Homo sapiens: one gene and its partner. The protein of the gene in region 1 interacts with the protein of each later gene in a pairwise test. Each region holds a gene or a part of one and is shown on either strand. Other genes may lie near its edges.

Region 1 (9,282 bases):
CAGGCTAGTCTCAAACTCCTGAACTCAAATGATCTGCCCGCCTTGGCCTCCCAAATTGCTGGGATTACAGGTGTGAGCCACTGCACCCAGCCTATGATTTCTTTCAGCAGTGTTTTGTAATATCCCTTGTAGAGGTCTTTTGACTCCTTGGTTAGGTATATTCCTAAGTATTTTATTTTATTTTATATTTCATTTTATTATTTTATTTTACTTATTTTATTTTATTTTAATTTAATTTTGCAGCTGTTGTAATAGGGGTTGAGTTCTTGGTTTGATTCTCCGCTTGGTCGCTGTTGGTGTATAGAAGAGCTACTGATTTGTGTACATTAATCTTGTATCCAGAAACTTTGCTGAATTCTTTTATAAGTTCTAGGAGCTTTCTGGAGGTGTCCTTAGGATTTTCAAGGTAAATAATCATATTGTCAGCAAAGAGTGACGGTTTGACTTCCTCTTTACTGATTTGGATGCCCTTTTCTTCTCTTGTCTGATTGCTCTGGCTAAGACTTCCAGTACCATGTTGAAGAGGAGTGGTGAGAGTGGGCATCCTTGTCTTGTTCCAATTCTCAGAGGGAATGCTTTCAACTTTTCCCCATTCAGTATTACATTAGCTGTGGGTTTGTCATAGATGGCTTTTATTACATTAAGGTATGTCCCTTGTATGCTGATTTTGCTGAGAGTTTTAATCATAAAGGGATGCTGGATTTTGTTTAATGCTTTTTCTGCATCTACTGAAATGATCATGTGATTTTTAATTCTGTTTATGTGGTCCATCACATTTACTGACTTGTATACATTAAACCATCCCTGCATCCCTGGTATGAAACCCACTTGATCATGGAGGATTATCTTTTTGATATGTTGTTGGATTTGATTAGCTAGTATTTTGTTAAGGATTTTAGCATCTATGTTCATCAAGGATATTGGCCTGTTGTTTTTTTTGTTATGTCCTTTCCTGGTTTTGGTATTAGGGTCATGGGGGCTTCACAGAATAAATTAGGGAGGGTTCCTTCTTCCTCTATCTTGTAGAATAGTGTCAAAAGGATTGGTACCAATTCTTCTTTGAATGTCTGGTAGAATTCTGCTGTGAATCCATCTGGTCATGGAATTTTTTTTGTTGGTAATTTTTAAATTACCATTTCCATCTTGCTGCTTGTTATTGACCTGTTCAGGGTATGTAATTCTTCCTGATTTAAGCTAGTAGGGTTGTATTTTTCCAGGAATTTGTCCATCTCTTCTAGGTTTTCTAGTTTATGTGTGTCAAGGTGTTCATAGTAGCCTTGAATGATCTTTTGTATTTCAGTAGTGTCAGTTGTAATATCTCCTGTTTCATTTCTTAGTGAGGTTATTTGGATTTTCTCCCTTCTTTTCTTGGTTAATCTTGCCAATGGTCTAACAGTTTTATTTATCTTTTCAAAGAACCAGCTTTTTGTTTCATTTACTTTTTTTTTTTTTTAAGACAGAGTCTCACTCTGTCGCCCAGGTTGGAGTGCAGTGGCACGATCTTGGCTCACTACAACCTCCACCTTGTGGGTTCAAGCAATTCTCCTGCCTCAGCCTCCTGAGTAGCTGGGACTACAGGCCTATGCCACTACGCCTAGCTAATCTTTGTATTTTTTAGTAGAGATGGGGTTTCACCATGTTGGCCAGGATGGTCTCTATCTCCTGACCTTGTGATCTGCCCGCCTCGGCCTCCCAAAGTGCTGGGATTACAGGCGCGAGCCACTGTGCCCAGCAACAGTTTCTTTATGAAAGAAGGATGGCAAAGTAGCAAAAACTAGAAGTCTTTTTAGACCAGGGAAAAGTAAAACGCAAGACAATGAGCCAGAGCAACTCATCCCTGGCAAGAATACATTTCATACAAAGTTTGCACCTGCTTCTCCACCTGGCACTTCTGATATTATTACCAGTCTTTGTATCTATCCATAATTCAGCAGCCTCAGCCCTTTCATAAATCCTTTCCATAAAGGCATTTTGTTTTCTGTTGTAAAGTCCTATATTTACTGTGATATGCCTTTCATTATTAGGAATTTAACATGCCTTTTTAACATTGCTAATTTTAAAATTAAGATTGTTATATATTAACACTCTGGTTACAAAGCTGCAATGTTATATATGGCCTACCCAACCCTATCTTCCTGTAAGCAGAGTGATAGCATGAGAAGTTCCATATTAAGGCCAGGTGCGGTAGCTCATGCCTATAATCCCAGCAGTTTGGAGGGCTGAGGAGGGCGGATCACCTGAGGTCAGGAGTTCGAGACGAACTTGGCGAACATGATGAAGCCCCATCTCTACTAAAAATACAAAAATTAGCCAGGTGTGGTGGTGTGCGCCTGTAGTCCCAGCTACTCAGGAGGCTGAGGCAGGAGTATTGCTTAAACCTGGGAGGCAGAGGTTGCAGTGAGTCGAGACTGCGCTAATGCACTCCAGCCTAGGTGACAGAACTCCAGCCTTGGCAACAGAGCAAGACTCTGTCTCAAAAAAAAGAAAAAAAAAAAGAAGTTGCATATCAAGAAGCAGGAACAGGTTTTATATAAAATGTATTACTGCCCAGTGGTGGATGGCTCTGCCTCATTGTCTTGAGTTTTCTTTTTCACTGGTTTAAAGACCAAAAAAAAAAAAAGCAATTTTAGCTGTTCTGTTGTCCTTCTTTCCATAAAGAACTGCTTAAATTGTCCCAAATAGGACTTTAAGCCCTACAAGTACAATTCAATTTTGCTACATTCTGCTTTCTAATGGTTATTTGCTGTTTTTTGTTTTGAGACGGAGTCTCGCTCTGTTGCCAGATTGGAGTGCAGTGGCGCGATCTCGGCTCACTGCAGCCTCCGCCTCCTGGGTTTCATGCAATTCTTCTGCCTCAGCCTCCCAAGTACCTGGGACTACAGGTGTGCGCCACCATGCTCAGCTAATTTTTGTATTTTTAGTAGAGATGGGGTTTCACCATGTTGGCCAGGATGGTCTCAATCTCTTGACCTCATGATCTGCCCGCCGTGGCCTCCCAAAGTGCTGGGATTACAGGTGTGAGCCACCGCATCTGGCCTGGGTTTTATGCTTGTTTTTTTTTTTTTTTTTTTTTTTGAGATGGAGTCTCGCTTCTTCACCCAGGCTGGAGTGTGGAGTGCAGTGGTGCAATCTCGGCTCACAGCAACCTCCCTGGGTTCAAGCAATTCTCCTGCCTCAGCCTCCTGAGTAGCTGGGAGTACAGGCATGTGCCAGCACACCTGGCTAATTTTTGTATTTTTACTAGAAATGGGGTTTCACCATGTTGGCCAGGCTGGTCTCCAACTCCTGACCTCAAGTGATCCACCTGCCTGGGCCTCCCAAAGTGCTAGGGTCACAGGCATGAGCCACTGGCACCTGGCCAAAACTAGTGTTTTGTTTTTTTGAGACAGGGTCTTATTCTGTCACCGAGGCTGGAGTGCAGTGGCACAATCATGGCTCACTTCAGTCTTGAACTCCCAGACTCAAGCAATCCTCCCACTTCAGCCTCCGGAGTAGCTGGGACTACAGGCACACACCATCACACCCGGCTGATTTTTGTATTTTTTGTAAAGACAGAGTTTCACCACGTTGCCCAGGCTGTTCTCAAACCCCTAGGCTCAAGTGATCTGCCCACTTTGGCCTCTCAAAGTACAGAGATTACAGGCATGTGCCACCACATCTGGCACATTATTATTTTCTATTCATTACAAGTTTTTCAGTGATACAAGTTTTCCAGAATACCTAGAGAGCTAATGGTATAATTAGAACAGAATCCAAGAGTGTTTCATCGGAAGCATACTAAAAGGAGAGACTGAAGAGACAGAAGGTTGTTCCACCAGCATTATCTAGACGATCCCTTGATAATTACAAATCTGTCCAAGCATAAGAAATATTTAGAATGGGCCAGGTGCGGTGGCTCATGCCTATAAACCCAGCAGTTTGGGAGGCCGAGGCAGGAGGATTGCTTGAGCCTAGGAATTCATGACTAGCCTGGGCAAAATAGTGAGACCCCATCTCTACAAAAAAATTTTAAAAATTAGCTGGGCATGGTGGTACATGCCTGTAGTCCCAGCTACTCAGGAGGCTGAGGTGGTAGGATCACTTGAGCCCAGGAGGACAAGACTGCACCACTGCACTCCAGACTGAACAACAGAAATATGTAGAATGGAGTACGTTATATAGCAGGAAAGCCCAATTCCTTTCCTGATGTAATGTAATCTAGATTAAAAATATACAAAATCTCTTTGCTTATTCAATTTTCTTTTTCTTTCTGTGTTTTTTTTTTGTTATTGTTTTTTGTTTTTTTTTGTTTTGTTTTGTTTGAGACAGGGTCTTACTCTGTCACCCAGGCTAGAGTGCAGCAGTGTAATCACAGATCACTGTAGCCTCAACTACTCAGGCTCAAGTGACCCTCCCATCCCAGCCTCCCAGGTAACTAGGACTACATGCACACAGCACCACGCCCAGCTAATTTTCTTATTTTTTGTAGAGACAGCGTCTTGCTATGTTGCCCAGGCTGGCCTTGTAACTCCTAGGCTCAAGCAATACTCCCACTTCAGCCTCCCAAAGTGCTGGGATTACAGGGTGAGCCACCATACCTGACCCAACCAAATCAATTTTCTGTTCATTAATTTTATAATTCAATAGATCTGCCTCTTAGAAATGAAAGGTCCTAAATAGATTATTAGTCCTAATTTGTCCCCTAGGTAGTACTCTTACTATAAATTAACCAACTGACATTCTGTTTGTAAACTTGGATTTTTTTACCTCTGATTAGCAAAAGATAATTTCTAGGAAGCTAGAGCACTGAACAATAAAAATTTTGGAACATAGGGCTTATTTACAAAGATATACTCTAAGGCTACAACTATGACTTTTGCTTTTTAATAATCATCATAATCCCTTATATTAATAAGTACTTATGGCTTACTGCTTCCAACATTCATAATCTGAGTATTCCAACAATTCTATAAGAAAAGCATTAAAAATAAAAATGAGCCAGGCGCGGTGGCTCATGCCTGTAATCTCAGCACTTTGGGAGGCCGAGGTGGGCGGATTATGAGGTCAGGAGTTTGAGACCAGCCTGACCAACATAGTGAAACCCCGTCTCTACTAAAAATACAAAAAAAAATTAGCCAGGTGTGGTGGTGTGCGCCTGTAACCCCAGCTACTCAGGAGGCTGAGGCAGGAGAATCGCTTGAACCCGGGAAGTGGAGGTTGCAGTGAGCCGAGACTGAGCCACTGCACTACAGGCTAGGCAACAGAGTAAGACTCCATCTCAAAAAAAAAAAAAAAATGACCATTTTGCCAATGTAGTAAAAAATTTCAGAAAATCAGGCCAGGCACGGTGGCTCACGCTTGTAATCCCAGCACTTTGGGAGGCTGAGGTGGGCGGATCACCTGAGGTCAGGAGTTCGAGACCAGCCTGGCCAACATGGAAAAACCCTGTCTTTACTAAAAATATGAAATTAGCCAGGCATAGTAATCCCAGCCACTCGGGAGGTTGAGGCAGGAGAATCGCTTGAACCTGGGAGGTGGAGGTTGCAGTGAGCCGAGATTGTGCCACTGCACTCCAACCTGGATGACAGAGCAAGACTCTGTCTCAAAAAACAAAAAAAAAATTCAGAAAATCAAACATAAAAACACCCATAATCCCACACCAGAAATAAATATAATAAATGACTTGGTGTACATACTTCCTAACCATTCCATTATTACAGTTTTTAGTAAAATGGCAGATTACAGCTGGGTGCAGTGGCTCACACCTGTAATCCCAGCACTTTGGGAGCCCAAGGTGGGCGGATCACTTGAGGTCAGGAGTTCGAGACCAGCCTGGCCAACGTGGTGAAATTAAAAATAGAAAAATTAGCCGGTCATGGTGGTCCACGCTTGCAATCCCACATACTTGGGAGGCTGAGGCAGGAGCATCACTTGAACCTGGGAGGCAGAGGATGCAGTGAGCCAAGATCACACCACTGCACTCCAGCCTAGGCAACAGAGCAAGACTCCATCTCAAAAAATAAAATAAATAAAATAAAATGAAATGGCATATTACACTTATAATTTTATAGCTCCCCCTTTTGACATATTAGGATCGTTCTTATAACTAATATATTTAATGGATTAAAAGCATTCCATTCTATAAATATAGCAGAGATTTTTAAAACTCAATCCACTAAGCCTATTTTACAGAAAAGGTAAACCTCAGAGAGGTAAAGTCATACCACAGGGCAAGGTCTATGAACTAAAACCTTGGCCTTCTCATTGCTAACAGAGTATTCTATCCATAATAGTTTCCAAAAGGATTGAAATAGACGGAACATTTTCTGACAAAAACAGCCATTAGACTGACTAAAGTCTGAGATACGTACCTAGCCACATGCGAATGATGCTCATGTAGTCTTTGTTCTTGGCTGAGAGAAGTTTGTCATAGGAAGGGCAGCCTGCCAAAAGGATGCGATCATGGTCCTCACACATGGATATCAGGTGCTGCTCTGCACTGCGGGTGCAGCACACATGATAATGAGCCAGTTTTGTTATGGCATGTCTGATAGAGTCATCAATGGTCCCACTGACTTCCCCACCTTCAATGTGAAGGATTCGGATGTTCATCAAGGCAGCAGATGTGGCCAGAGCCAGGGCATCAAACCTGTCTCCATGAACAATCATGATATCAGGCTTCAGGCGATTAAGGACATCTGGCAGCTTCACTAGGGCCAGGCCTACTGACTCCACCATGGCTGCCTCATCTTCTCCCCTCACAATTGTGTGTAGCCTGGTGTTAATGTCAAAGTCATCTTGTTCAATCATTCGATATGTATTTCTAAAGCCGGGGAGAAATAAAGATATAAGAACATGTTCTTAAACACAGAGCCGTAACATGCAAGAAAAGCAATCTAACACCAACTCTGAAGTGAGAAACATTAAAATAAATAAATTGAAGTATAACTTACAAACATAAAAAGCATAGACCATAAGTGTAAACAGCCTGATTAAGATTCTTTTTTTTTTTTTTTTTTTTTTTTTTGAGATGAAGTCTTGCTCTGTTGCCCAGGCTGGAGTGCAGTAGCGCGATCTAGGCTCACTGCAACTTCTGCCTCCCGGGTTCAAGCGATTCTCCTGCCTCAGCCTCCTGCGTAGCTGGGATTACAGGCATGTACCACCACACCCAGCTAATTTTTCTATTTTTAGTACAGATGGGGTTTTGCCATGTTGGCCAGGCTGGTCTTGAACTCCTGACCTCAGGTGATCCACCCACCTTGACCTACCAAAGTGCTGGGATTACACGCGTGAGCGACTGCACCCGGCCAGAGAATTTTTTTATTAGGAAGAAAGAGACTAAACTTTTAACAGTGGTCAGCACTTTTTATATACACTTAGGGGAAAATGTTTTTTACCCTTTTTTTTATTTTTTTGAGACAGAGTCTCGCTCTGTCGCCCAGGCTGGGGTGCAGTGGTGCGATCTTGACTCACTGCAACCTCCACCTCCCAGGTTCAAGCGATTCTCCTGCCTCAGCCTCCCGAGTAGCTGGGACTACAGGCGTGTGCCATCACGCCCAGCTAATTTTTGTATTTTTAGTAGAGACAGGGTTTCACCATGTTGGCCAGGATGGTCTCAATCTCTTGACCTCGTGATCCGCCCGCCTCGTCCTCCCAAAGTGCTGGGATTACAGGTGTGAGCCACCGTGCCTGGCCAAACCTTTTTTCTTTAAGAAAACATTTCATGGTGAAAAGTCTCTCACTTTTGTCTCCCAGTCATCCAATTCTTCTCCCAAGAAGCAACCAATTTCTTGTGTTAGAATGTACCTTAAACATGCATTTTCATTAAGTACTAGTCAAATTTCCTATTTAACGGTCTCATCAGATAAACACTATTCTTCCACCCTTGGTAACTGTGGTAGGCAGATAAAAAACCTACTACCATTTCCCTGAGAGCCTCTCTTCCACTAGTCTTCCTGTCAAAGCTTTCTCAGAGCAGTAAAAGAACCCACTCAAACTTTCATCTCAGGCTCTAGCTAAAATTTCTGTTCTACTGAGAGGATGCTCCTAAATAGCCAGAATTCATTTTATATTAAAAAAAAATCTGGACGGACGCAGTGGCTCACACCTGTAATCCCAGCACTTTGGGAGGCGGAGGCAGGTGGATCACCTGAGGTTGGGAGTTTGAGACCAGCCTGACCAACATGGAGAAACCCCGTCTCTACTAAAAATACAAAATTAGCCGGGCATGGTGGCGCATGCCTGTAATCCCAGCTACTCGGAAGGCTAAGGCAGGAGAATCACTTGAACCCGGGAGGTGGAAGTTGCAGTGAGCCGAGATCACGCCACTGCACTCCAGCCTGGGCAACAAGAGCAAAACTCCGTCTCAAAAAAAAAAAAAAAAAAAAAAATCTGTGGATCCCTGAGCTATCCATTAAGTTTCTTCTCTACTCTTTAAGTATTTCCTAGTAGCGAATTCCCACCTTGTTTTTAAAGAATAGTCTGAAAAGGACAATTTTATTTTAACGCAAGGTTCTTTCAGATACAGTATTGTATTTGTGATCCTCTTTGGAGACTGCATTAATATATTCATGCCACAAGGGTGCACTAAATGACTTTTTATTACATACATCAAGATGTATGTAATACGCCTTGTTCTCTCAGATTATTCAACCTTTGCTTTTTTTTTTTTTGAGACGGAGTCTCACTCTTGTTGCCCAGGCTGGAGTGCAGTGGTGTGATCTCAGCTCATTGCAACCTCCGCCTCCCGGGTTCAAGTGATTCTCCTGCCTCAGCCTCCCGAGTAGCTAGGACTACGGGCATGCGCCACCACAACTGGCTAATTTTTTTTTTTTTTGTATTTTTCGTAGAGATAGGGTTTCACCATGTTGGCCAGGCTGGTCTCAAATTCCTGACCTCAGGTGATCCACCCACCTCAGCCCCCCAGAGTGCTGGGATTATAGGCATGTGCCACCGTGCCCGGCCCAACTTTCACTTTTTAAATGTAGCCTGTGATTAATAACAAACCTAATGTCAGCAAAATAAATGTCAATGGTGACAGTAATGTAACTCTCTACTTTACCTTGCAGATTAGATTTTTAAAATCTTGTTCCATATCTACTACTTTATATGCTGTTGGCCTATAAACCAGTTTTAAAGATTGCCATTACAGCTCACAAAACAGTTTACATGGAATCACATTATTATACTCATACAATATGTATTTATAAGTGGCATTTGTTTGAATGTAACAACTAATAACAAACAGTAATATTATTTATAGCTACCATTTATCAATCATCTACTAAGCGGCATCATTGTGAT
Region 2 (6,192 bases), on another chromosome or scaffold:
ACAACATCTGGAGGGGATTAATCCCTTTTCAATCCCCGGAAGAACTTGCCCAGGAGTTGGGATGGTATTCAAGGTCCAGTTTCTCAGCTCCAGACCTTCTCTCTCCCACACCCAGGTATGAAGAGGAGGTGGCCCTGAGAGCCACAGCAGAGAATGAGTTTGTCGTTCTAAAGAAGGTGAGGGGCTGGTCATGGGGCAAGGAGGAGGGGGCCCATCAGTGCAAACTCCAGCGAGGGGCAGGGTCACCATGCTGACCAAAGGCACCTTTCTTTGGTCTCCTCTCACATGCATGTCCCCTCCTCTTTGTCCCACGGCCAGGACGTGGACTGTGCCTACCTGCGGAAATCAGACCTGGAGGCCAATGTGGAGGCCCTGGTGGAGGAGTCTAGCTTCCTGAGGCGCCTCTATGAAGAGGTAAGGGGGCAACTGCCACCCAGCCAGGGCAGGTGGAGGGGTGTTTTGGAGACAGGGGAGCAGTGAGGCAAGGGTGCATGTGTGTGCCTATGTTTGCCAATGTGCAATGTAAGTGTGAAAAGAGCTTGCACATACGTGCTGGGGCCCACAATACAGAGGCCATGTCCACGTTCATGTGTGAGAGGAGCATGGGGTGTACATGTTCTTGGGCTGCTCTGTGTCTGTGACCTCTCTGCATGTTGGTGTGCTGCCTGTGTGAGTGCCAGTCTACAGATGGGCAAGAGAGTGTGCATGTGTGGTGGGGGTCAGGATGGCTTCGCACATAGGGCATGGTCCTCATTAATGGACTGACTAATCACTCATCCTAGCCTCCAAACCCCAGCTCCCCTGCTGGGTGACTTTGGACCAGATCTTTTTCACCCTCTGGGCCTCAGTTTTCCCACTTTTAAGGCAGACACTGTTCCCAGATGGCCTCTACAGCCCCTTTCAGCTTTGTTGTTTTTAAGGAGCCTGTGCATGAGTGAAGGTGGTAGGAGCAGGAGTCATGTAACCTTCATGACCAGTGCCCGGTCTGGGAAGTGGACATTGTCCCCTGGGGTGGATCACGTGGCCCAGATCAGGCACTAGAAGCAAATGCACTGGCTGTTGGCCCCACAGGAGATCCGCGTTCTCCAAGCCCACATCTCAGACACCTCGGTCATAGTCAAGATGGACAACAGCCGAGACCTGAACATGGACTGCATCATCGCTGAGATCAAGGCTCAGTATGACGATGTTGCCAGCCGCAGCCGGGCCGAGGCTGAGTCCTGGTACCGTAGCAAGGTGAGTGGCACAGGACACCTGCCTGCTAAGCATGGCAGTGGGAGGGAAGTTAGGCATCTATTAGAAAAGATTTCTCTTGCCTGGGGATTCTGACCCATGAGGACAGTATGAGAAAAGCCAGTAGTTCTCAGGTTGAAGTGGCAGGGCAGGACTGCCATGTGTGGTTGCACAGGCTGAGCACCGTACAACCTGTATAGTCATCTGTGGTGTCCTGAATGGATGGGGGGCCCCACCCTGAGCCTCATGAGCATCTCTACTTCCTCCAGTGTGAGGAGATGAAGGCCACGGTGATCAGGCATGGGGAGACCCTGCGCCGCACCAAGGAGGAGATCAACGAGCTGAACCGCATGATCCAGAGGCTGACGGCCGAGATTGAGAATGCCAAGTGCCAGGTGGGGTCTGTGGAGGATTCAAATACGCAGCACAGGCAGGCTGCAGCACCTGGCCCTAATCAGGCTTCACAGTGTGCCCATGAGGAAGCAGGGACCCAGAGGGAAGGGAGGGGCTCTATCATATTTCACAGCAATCAGACCATGTCACTGACTTCCAAAGGAGGATCCAGCCCCTTCCTTGGCCACCCTGTGACCGCCATCAAGGAGAGATGATGAAAAGCCCACCCATCTCCTCCCTCATATTCACAGCCCCATTAACTACCTGGCCACGGGCCAACCTTCTCTCCAGGACCCTCCTCTCCCTGCCCTGGCTCCATCAGCTTGGGTGAGCCAAGCTGTGGCTTCTCTTTCTCATCCTGGCCCTTGTATCTCCACCTGATAGCGTGCCAAGCTGGAGGCTGCTGTGGCTGAGGCAGAGCAGCAGGGTGAGGCGGCCCTCAGCGATGCCCGCTGCAAGCTGGCTGAGCTGGAGGGCGCCCTGCAGAAGGCCAAGCAGGACATGGCCTGCCTGCTCAAGGAGTACCAGGAGGTGATGAACTCCAAGCTGGGCCTGGACATCGAGATCGCCACCTACAGGCGCCTGCTGGAGGGCGAGGAACACAGGTGGGGCTAAGAGGACTTTGTGGGGTTTCAGAGGTGGAGGCTGTGGTCCTCCAGGAGTGAATTTCCTTGAGCTGAGTGTGAGCTACAACTCTGGCCATGGCTAATACAATAGCTTCAATAATAATAATAATAATAACTGAATGCTTCTGTGCTAGACCTGTGCTAAGTGTTTATTTTATAATCCTCACAATCCAATAAGATAGATATGGTTTTTCCCATCTTTTTATCTTTAGATAAAGAAGCAGGCTCAGAATTCAGTGCCTTTATCATGGCTACGCAGTTAATAAGCAGAAGAGCTGGGACCTGCACCCAAGTCTCATGCCTCCCAAATCCGTCCTTGTTGAATAGCTTCCTACTGAAGCTGCTGCCACACAGGCCTGTGTGTTATGATGATGATGCACTTCTATATGCATTTAGCTCTTCATCAACCACAAAGCCCCTTCACACCCTGGTGTATCTGATTCAACTCTCCTTCCTGTGAGCTTGATTGGCACCATCCAGGCTGGCCACCATCACTCAAACTAGGGGCACTGTTCATAATCTTACCCACTGCTGCTGAAAATCAGAAAGCCTTGTCTTCATGGTTAAAACCATCAAAGAAAGAAAGCATTTAATGCAGATTTGAGGGAGCCCTTCTTGCCTTTCAGGGGTAGACTCTGTACACAGGATGACCCTCTCTGTCCCCAAGCAACCATCAGTCTCAAGGAATCCAACTCAGTGTCTGGAACTAACAGAGTTTTCTTTCTCCATAGGCTGTGTGAAGGTGTGGGCTCTGTGAATGTCTGTGAGTATCTGCCTGAAATTCTCCTGGAAAAATGGCTTTTTTGATAGAAAAGCTGAACTCATTGGCCTAACCCATGGAGCCTCGAGTGTTCCCCCAACTGTTTCACCCTCCCCTGGCTCCTCAGTGGGGGCCATGACAGGTGTTAGAGAAAGCTGAGCTGAGTGCTCTTCGCAAGTGTTGACAGTGAGCTATAGGCCATGGACCTGTGGCCTGGCAGCTTTGCTCCCCGGGGTCCAGGGGTCCTCACTTCCTTCCTGCCCCAGTTCCCTAGATGGGCTGTGCATCTCAGGGACAGGGCCTGCATTGTTGACCACCAATTCCTTGGAGAGGGAGGCAGCTCCTGCAGTGCCCTGGGGCCTGTTGTAGGGTGGGTGAGATTGCAGGGAGCTGCTCACCCCTCCATGTCTCCTCTCTCCACAGGTGTCAGCAGCTCCCGTGGTGGAGTCTCCTGTGGGGGCCTCTCCTACAGCACCACCCCAGGGCGCCAGATCACTTCTGGCCCCTCAGCCATAGGCGGCAGCATCACGGTGGTGGCCCCTGACTCCTGTGCCCCCTGCCAGCCTCGTTCCTCCAGCTTCAGCTGCGGGAGTAGCCGGTCGGTCCGCTTTGCCTAGTAGAGTCATGGAGCCAGGGCTTCCTGCCAAGCACCTGCCTGCCTGCATCACTGCACTGAATGGCATGTGAATGGAAAATGTGTGCTTGCTTCCAGAATCTTCTGGATGTTCCTACAGAGGGAAAGACCTACAGAGGGAAAGACCCTCGGGCCGCTCCCCTGCGCCTTTTCATGCTAGGGAGATGCATCCTAGTTGTCCTCCTGGCAGCTGTTTTCAGAGGCATTCCCAGCCCTTCACTTAACTCCTACTTAGCTCCAAAATACCTGTATCCAATTTGTATTATTCCCCCAGCTCTCAGGGACAAGACCAGTCCCCCAGCGTGGTGGTCAGCACGGAAGCTCCACCTTCTGGGTGGAGGCGCCATCCTAACCATCCAGCCAGGCCACCCACAACCCGAGAATCAGGGAGAAAGTCCCTCCCCAGCAGCCCCCTCCTCCTGGCTGGGAAGAATGGTCCCCCAGCAAGCACTTGCCTGTTCATTCCTGTTCATGTTTTGCTTCTCTCTCAGACTGCCTTCCTGCTTCTGGGCTAACCTGTTCCAGCCAGGCTCCTCATGTGACCTCGCAGTTGAGAAGCCCATTATCGTGGGGCATCCTTTTGCCTACAGCCCCTGGTTAGGGCACTTTGGACAGGTCTTGCTATTCAGTGAACCTTTGTACATTTCAAAGAAGACTCCATGGCTGCTCCAGATGCCCCCTTGCTGGGTGCAGGTGGGGACTGTCCAATGCAGAGCTGGCGGGACAGAGAGTTAAGCCACTTCCTGGGTCTCCTTCTTGTGACTGTCTATGGGTGCATTGCCTTCTGGGTTGTCTCGATCTGTGTTTCAATAAATGCCGCTGCAATGCAAGAGCGTGTGGTCTTGTGAGCAACTTCTCCACTCCCTTCTTGCCTCATCTCCAGATGACCAATCCCAGTCCAGCCCCATGCAGTGTTTCCCCAGTCACCCCCCAGAAACTCTGCTGCTTCCTGTCCACTTCCACAGTCTGATTCCACTCAGTCGCCCTCAGTCCCCTCAGGCCTGGACTACAGCCCAGCTCCCCACTAATGACCTCTTTCTCCCTGACCCACCCTGCGTACTCCCAGCAGCCAAAACTCCATCCCAAACTCACTGCTCTCACCCTCTCCTGCCTGGCTCAAGTCACTTCCTGGCACATGTGTGTGCTTCTTATGCCAAATGCAGGCTTCCTCTGTCACCTCCTTCCCCAGCTACTCCTCAGCCCTGTCCAACCCCTCCATGCGGTGCTCATCCTCCCAGTCATGGACTCCACCCCAAGGAGACAAGTCTACCCTCTGAGGCAGCCCAGAGACACTCTCTCCTACATACCCCTTGTGGACACATAGGCCATCCCACATCCCTCCTCCCATTTGCCTTTGCTCAGGGCCCTCCTCTGCTCCCCAAAGCTACCACCCTCACCCCTACACCCCCCAGCCCTCCCCCGCCCCCATCATATAGTGTCTGGAACCCTGAGAATCTCTGGTTTTGTCTCTGCGGATCTGGGCCAGGGATGTCAACGGGTGTGTCTGGATCAAGCTGGAAATTCCATAAGGACAGGAAGTATCTCCTCCTGGCTCTGACCTCCCACTGAGTCCCAGGATGGGGCTCCAAGATATGCCAGGCCTGGGATGTGCTGGATGAATGCAGGCAGCTGGTGCAGCAGGAGGTAGAGACATCCAGTCCTCTTGCCCTCAGCTCCATCTCCCCATTAGCTGTCACCGTCATCAAGCAGGTGTCTGCCAGCCCCCTGCTGCCCCATCCTGCAGCCTCTTTCTCTGAGAGGAGAAGATAGGGCCTTGTGCATCCTCACTTTAGGCCCAAAGGGCTGTAGCCCCACTGGAGGCTGCTGGCTGCTTCTGAGTGCTTAGGCTGCTGCTCTGTTTGAGGTTTGCTGGCTGACACCTGGCGGGCCTCCTCCAGGTCTCTTGCCTGCTGCCTCCTTTTTCCCAGCTGTTTGGGCCCTGAGGGCATGGTGACAATCACAATAGGCCAACTTTCAATTTAGGGGACATCATTCACCCACAGGAAACGTTAAATCCCAGGGGCTGAAACATCAGGAAATGGAAATTTGAGCCCCAATTCTGCCAAGACTGCCAGGTCTCGGTGAGTCCTTGGGCAGGAAGTGGCTTTCATGCTTTGCATGTCAGTCTGGGGTCTATGAGATGAGTGGGTAGAGTCCTTACCAGGTCTGCTGCCTCCTATGGTTCTGAGATGCTACAGAGAGTCTATGCTTGGGGAAAACAGCTTCATGTTACCATGGATCTGGGCTGAGCAAAACAAAAATGCCAAATCTGATACCCAAAAAATAACGGCACCATGGATTGAAAAGTCAAACAGCCAGAACCTGGGAGATAGGAATGAATTTTTTAATACATTTCCGTGCTTTGTGTGCAAATACCATTCAACAGATTCAGCTGGCCAGAGGTGCCTTTTGCTTATGGGGAGGTAAGCCTCTGCCCCAGCCCTCCTTGCAGCCAACAGCAAAAACCCACCACAGCAAGCTCTTCTGGCTCAAAGGATGCTGGGGCTCCTGCAGCTCTCTCCTGATCAAAGAACTATTCCCCTCGG

Evidence for each region. Proteins that work in one complex are often made in the same cells at the same time.
Region 2: the proteins of GNE (region 1) and KRT85 interact in binary tests that used the Homo sapiens proteins (3 or more experiments, as listed by UniProt).

What each region holds. Positions count from the first base shown.
Region 1 is NC_000009.12:36,239,681-36,248,962, forward strand, and holds part of GNE (bifunctional UDP-N-acetylglucosamine 2-epimerase/N-acetylmannosamine kinase), read right to left. Parts: intron 6,803-9,282; coding exon 6,351-6,802; intron 1-6,350. UniProt on the Homo sapiens protein: Bifunctional enzyme that possesses both UDP-N-acetylglucosamine 2-epimerase and N-acetylmannosamine kinase activities, and serves as the initiator of the biosynthetic pathway leading to the production of N-acetylneuraminic acid (NeuAc), a critical precursor in the synthesis of sialic acids.
Region 2 is NC_000012.12:52,358,290-52,364,481, reverse strand, and holds the end of KRT85 (keratin, type II cuticular Hb5), read left to right. Parts: exon of another isoform or gene 1-61; coding exon of another isoform or gene 62-115; coding exon 116-176; intron 177-318; coding exon 319-414; intron 415-1,071; coding exon 1,072-1,236; intron 1,237-1,502; coding exon 1,503-1,628; intron 1,629-2,010; coding exon 2,011-2,231; intron 2,232-2,983; coding exon 2,984-3,015; intron 3,016-3,435; coding exon 3,436-3,629; 3' UTR 3,630-4,476; downstream 4,477-6,192.